2 separate regions of the Homo sapiens genome follow, and region 1 is linked to region 2. The links come from fine-mapping of genetic effects on gene expression. A gene starts in region 2. The other region holds a variant in brackets. All regions are shown on one strand. Distances are between the middles of the regions. Region 1 overlaps STARD7-AS1 (STARD7 antisense RNA 1). Region 2 holds the start of STARD7 (StAR related lipid transfer domain containing 7).

What was found. PIP is the estimated chance that this variant, and not a neighbour inherited with it, causes the effect.
Region 1: its variant is fine-mapped to the expression of STARD7 in regulatory T cells (Schmiedel 2018, PIP 0.95).

What each region holds. Positions count from the first base shown.
Region 1 is chr2:96,229,347-96,232,255 of GRCh38, reverse strand. All of the region lies in intron 1 of STARD7-AS1 (STARD7 antisense RNA 1), which reads right to left. Among named protein-coding and RNA genes, the nearest start is that of SNORA112, 16 kb to the right of the region's middle. The variant A/CA (reference allele first, on the strand shown) is at 1,426.
Region 2 is chr2:96,207,096-96,210,004 of GRCh38, reverse strand. STARD7 (StAR related lipid transfer domain containing 7) reads left to right here and starts at 1,178. Exons shown (of 8, transcript NM_020151.4): 1 at 1,178-1,860. The coding sequence starts at 1,571. It overlaps STARD7-AS1 (STARD7 antisense RNA 1), which reads right to left and starts at 1,589. Exons shown (of 4, transcript NR_046322.1): 1 at 1,026-1,589. RefSeq lists silencers at 932-1,151, 1,502-1,761 and an enhancer at 894-1,484.

The DNA.
Region 1 (2,909 bases), 22 kb before region 2:
TAGGCTGGATGACCAATATTCTACAGTGGGCTGTATGGACGGATCACTTTGCCCAACTGTAGGCCAATGTAAGTGTTCTGGGCATGTTTGAGGTAGGCTAGGCTAAGCTATGATGTCCTGTAGGTTAGGTGTATTCAGGGCATTTGCAACTCAGGATATTTTCTTTTCTTTTTCTGAGATAGGGTCTCACTTTGTCTCACCAGGCTGGACTGCAGTGGTGCAAGCATGGCTCTCTGCACCCTCGATCTCCTGGGCTCAAGCCATTCTCCCACCTCAGCCTCCCACGTAGCTGGGACTACAGGCGTGTGCCTCCATGCCTGGCTAACTTAAAAAATTTTTTTTTTTGTAGAGACAATGTCTTGCTATGTTGCCCAGACTGGTTTCACACTTCTGGGCTTAAGTGATCCTCCAGCTTTGGCCTCCCAAAGGGTGGGGATTACAGGCATGAGCCATTGCACCTGGCGAAATTTTTATAATTGTATGTTGTCTCAGCATCTGTTTTAAATACAGGTTAGCCTTTCTCATATAAAAAGCAGGACTCAGTCACCCTTGACACATTGTCCAGTTCTCCACCTCCTCCTAGCTCCTCAGTGTGATCAATCTAGATACCTGCCTTATACAACCACCTCCTGATGACCACTTCCCTGTGGACACCTAGATACTACATATGTGACTTGCTCCAACCCCCTCGCCCCACATGGACTGCCCAGACATGCTGCAGTGACCACCTCTGAGTCACAGCATGACCCCATGATACTTGTGCCTGCTTGCTCTAAACTTACCAGTTAGAACTCCTATCGGATGCAGTGGCTCACGCCTGTAATCCCAACACTGTGAGTGGCCAAGGTGGGAGGACTGCTTGAGACAAGGAGTTTGAGACAGCCTGGGCAACATAGCGAGACCTTGTCTCTACCAAAAATAATTTAAAAATTAGCTAGGCATGGTGGCGCACTCCTGTGATCCCAGATATTTAGGAGGCTGAGGTGGGAGGACTGCTTGAGCCTGAGAGGTAGAGGGTGCAGTGAGCTGTGATAGCGCCAGTGCACTCCAGCCTGGGCAACAGAATGAGACCATTTCAAAAAACCAAAAACCCGCTGGGCATGGCAGCTCATGCCTGTAATCCCAGCACTTTGGGAGGCCGAGGCAGGAGGATCACCTGAGGTCAGGAGTTTGAGACCAGCCTGGGGAACATGGCAAAACCATGTCTCTACTAAAAATACACAAATTAGCCAGGTGTGGTGGTGGGCACCTGTAATCCCAGCTACTCGGGAGGCAGAGGCATGAGAATCACTTGACCCTGCAAGGCGGAGGTTGCAGTGAGCCAAGATTGCACCACTGCCTTCCAGCCTAGGTGACAGGGTGAGACTCTGTCTCAAAAAAAAAACAACAACAAAAAAAACAAAACCAAAAACCAACCCCCCCCCC[A/CA]CCAAAAACAAACAAACAAACAAAAAAAACAAAAACTCCTCTCAGGAAACCTGCTTGGGTAATGGCCTGGACCCAATACAGACATTAGCCCTCAGGCCCCTTGCTTTCTCTCTCATTCCCTGCTCCCCAGCTAAGCACGTGTGTCCTGGCCAGCTCTCTCCCCACTGGCCCTGAGAGGCGTGCTGCCCTCTTCTCTGTAAGAGCTCTGTAAGCAATACACTGCTTCTGTTACTTCATGTGTTTTGCTGTGTTGCCTCCTCTGCAACTCACCTGACCATCATACCTGAACCCAACTCTCATTCCATAGAGGGTTCTCCTACAGAGTGGCTATCTTGGTAGGAATAAACTGGACACAAGTCAGACAAGAGCCACACAGGTGTCTGCCAGTATCAACAAGTTTCCTGTGAGACGGACACCTGGTCATGGGTCTGACACTTAGGAATTAGGCCATCTGCCAGATAATGAAGTATCCTGTCAATGGCGCACTGCAAACATCCATGGCCAGCTCTCCTGGGGCCCTGGAGTCAGGACAGGGCTAGAGTTTACAGCCACTCTCCAGAAAGAGGCCTCAAGATGAAATCAGAAGAAACACAATACTATCTTCTGCAGGTAACTATTCTCCTTTTGAGATACAGCTTCGAGCATGTCACTTGGCCCTAGTGGACACTAAAGCCCTTGGCTGTGGGCCACCAAATTATCAAGTGTCCTGAGCTAAGCCTAAATATCATTATTTATTAATGATAAATTAAATTGGGTATTATATGACTCATCAAGCCAGAAAGTTGCACTCCATCTACTTAATGATGGAGTCATTATGAAATGGAAATGGTATAAATGAGATTGGGTCTGAGCAGGTCCTAAATGCAGAAGCAAGTTCTCTGAGTAACTACTCCTGCTACATTGCCTATTCTCTCTCAACCCACATCTATGGCCTCATGGGAAATCACCTATCACCAGTTGACCAAGGAGGTAAAAATTAAAAAAAAAAATTCAAGTCTGGCTGGGCACGGTGGCTTACATTTTATAATCTCAGCACTTTGGGAGGCCCAGCCGGAAGGACTGCTTGAGCCCAGTAGTTCGAGAACAGCCTGAGCAACATGGTAAGATCCCACCTATACAAAATAATAATAATAATAATAATAATAATAATAGCCGGGTGCAGTGGCATGCACCTGTGATCCCAGCTACTTGGGAGGCTGAAGCAGGAGGACCACTGGGGCCTAGGAGGTTGAGGCTGAAGTGCAGTGGTGATCGTGCCACTGCACTTCAGCCTGGGCGACAGTGAGACCCTGCCTAAGGAAAAAAAAAAAAAATTCAAGTCTGGTTCCTTGTTACAGATGTTTCTGCATCACATATTGTTATAACCCCACTCAAGGTGGTCCTGAGAACAGTGGTCAAAGGAAATCTTCCGAGTGGGCAAAACTTTGATTGGTGCATGTGGTTGCTCATTTTACCTAGAAGGAGAGATGGTCAGAGTTGTAGCT
Region 2 (2,909 bases):
AGAGAACTATGTGGCCGCTTAGGCTGGCCTCTGGATCTGTCACCAGAGGTGGGGCTACCGAACCATGGACAGGTAGCCACAAGGGGTATCCCAGACGAACCCCCAAATTTGTAACCGTACAATGGGTTCACCTTGCCCACTGCCTAGACAGAGCCGATTTATCAAGACAGGGGAACTGCAATAAAGAGTAATTCACGCAGAGCCCACTATGAGACTGGAGTTTGTTTCAACATTACTCAATCAGTCTCCCTTAGCATTCCGGGATCAGAGTGTTTAAGGATAATTTGGTGGGTGGGGGAAGGCCAGTGAGTCCAGAGTGTTGACTGGTTGGGTCGAGATGAAATAATAGGGAATTGAAGCTGTCCTCTTGCACTGAGTTGGTTCCTGGGTGGGGGCCACAAGGTCAGATGAGCCAGTTTATCCATCTGGGTGGTGCCAGGATCCAACCAGTGCGGGGTCAGCAAAATATCTCAAGCACTGATCTTAAGAGCAGTTTAGGGGGATCACAATATCGTAGCCTCCAGCTGCATGACTCCTAAACCATAATTTCCAATCTTATGGCTAACTTATTAGTCCTACAAAGGCAGTCTAGTTCCCAGATAAGAAGATTTGTTTTGGGAAAGGGCTGTTATCCTCTTTATTTTAAACTATAAACTAAGTTCCTCCCAAAATTAGTTCACCTAAGCTCAGGAATGAACAAGGACAGAAGCAAGATGGAATTGGTTAGGTCAGATCTCTTTCACTGTCTCAGTTTTAATTCTGCAATGGCGGTTATCACTGGGAGCCCCCAGCCCCCGCAGAGACATGCGGAGCCCCGCCCCCACCCTGCACTCTAATAAAGAAGGGGGCCAGCGTGCCGGCCTCTTAAAACAAGTTAACACCTGGCAGGATTCTAACAGGAACCTGGCCAGGTTTCTCCGCGGGGCGGGGCTGGGACGGCCGGAAGATGGCGGCGACGGCGGCAGCCGGGTCCGAGGGTCACTCTCCAATGCGCCCTTGACGGCTCTCGCCGCCGAGCCACCTACCTTGCTAGCAGGCGGCCTCCGCGCATGCATGAAGGGGCAGGAGGGGGCGGTGACGAGCACTTCACGGCGCCAATGAGCACCCAGGAGCCCAGGTCGCGCCCAATCACGGCCCAGGTGGCGGAGAAAAAGTAGGGTGCGCGCGCGCCGCGCGTGTGGCAGTCGCGGAAGGCGCGGGAGCTTGCGTGCTGCTGGGCCTGAGCTGTCTGTCTCGTTTCTGTCCGCGCGCCCTGCATCCCGGCCCCGGGCGCCCGCTGGAGGTCGCCGAGGAGCCACAGGGCTGACTGGTCTGCTGCCCGGGCCCAGGAGTGCCTGGTGTAGCAGTCGCGGAGCCATCCCGGCGTCTGCTGCCATGACCGACTCTCCCCTCAGAGGAGACTCTTCCTCAGCGGTGGCTGCAGAGACAGATGAGCGGCGGCTCCTGGCCGCGGGACCGTGAGACGGGTTCGTGGCCGGCCATTTAGGGGGACGCTGCGACCACCGCCTGCGCCCCTCCGGACTGGTTCCTTGGGCCCCGGAAGCTCGCGGCGGGCCCTGCGGGAGGCGGCATGCTCCCGCGGAGGCTGCTGGCCGCCTGGCTGGCGGGGACGCGGGGCGGGGGCCTGCTGGCGCTTCTGGCCAATCAGTGCCGCTTCGTCACGGGCCTGCGCGTGCGGCGCGCGCAGCAGATCGCGCAGCTCTACGGCCGCCTCTACTCCGAGAGCTCACGCCGCGTTCTCCTCGGCCGCCTCTGGCGCCGGCTGCACGGCCGTCCTGGCCATGCCTCTGCCTTGATGGCGGCGTTAGCCGGCGTCTTCGTTTGGGACGAGGAGAGGATCCAGGAGGAGGAGTTGCAGAGGTGGGCGCTGCGGCGAGCTCTTTCTGGGCCGTGGGGTGGGGGGGCTTGTGAACCCTGGGGCCTGCCCTGTGGTCGTTGGCCCTTGTTTACCCGGTGGTCTTTTAATTGGCAATACAGTCGATTGAACCTGCTTCAGCAAACCGCGTTGTTATTTGTCTCTGTGTGTCAATTTGCATTTGTCGGGTTATAAAATAGAACTGAAAGTGTGTAGGCTGGTGTGTAGGAGGGAGACTTTGAGTGGGGCGAGCAAGACAGTAAAGAAACAACACTGTAGAAATCAATTAGATAGCGAAGGCATGGAGGCCCTTGTTCATGTAATCTGTAATCTTTAACACAACCAGAAAGGTGCAAATTCAAAACAAATTTTAAATTTGGCCTAAGGGTGGTGGGCTGCTATTTGCAAAATGACTTCAATCCAGATGGGACTCAGGCCTGTGAGAAAAGCCAGGAGAGCCCTCTGTCATCGTGACTCGTGGCAAAATTGAGAGCCTGGAAGCGATTTTGTCCAGGTTACACAAACCAGCAGCCCAGACATTTGAACCTGTAAGAATTAGGTCAGATTTTTGCGACGTTAACTAGAACTTTGGGAATAGTGTCCCATTAGACTCTGAAGTCATGCTGTCGTCATCAAAACTGTGAAAAGCCCAGTACCATTGATTACGTTTGTTAATCTGTAGTTCTGAGACTGTAGTTTCCAGGTAATGTCATGGGGAAACTTTGCTTTGGTTTTTGGTTTACCTTGTGTCTGTATTTTCTTTGCAACAGATATTCTTAAACTGTGCCCTCCCTGCACAGAAAGTACTTTGCCGTGATTTCGGGAACCAGAGACAATCCCCTCCCTCCGCAGATTCCACACTCGCCTGTTTATTCTTGATATTTCCTCCACAGGGAAACAACCTGTTATTCCACATTTTTTGTTAGGTTAAAAATGGAAATACCCCAATAAAGTTTATACCATGGCCTGTGTGGGAGGTGTAACACCCAGATGCCAGGCAGCTATTTGTGCCACACTATGAATTGTGGGTAAATGCAAGTCTATCTTAAGAACT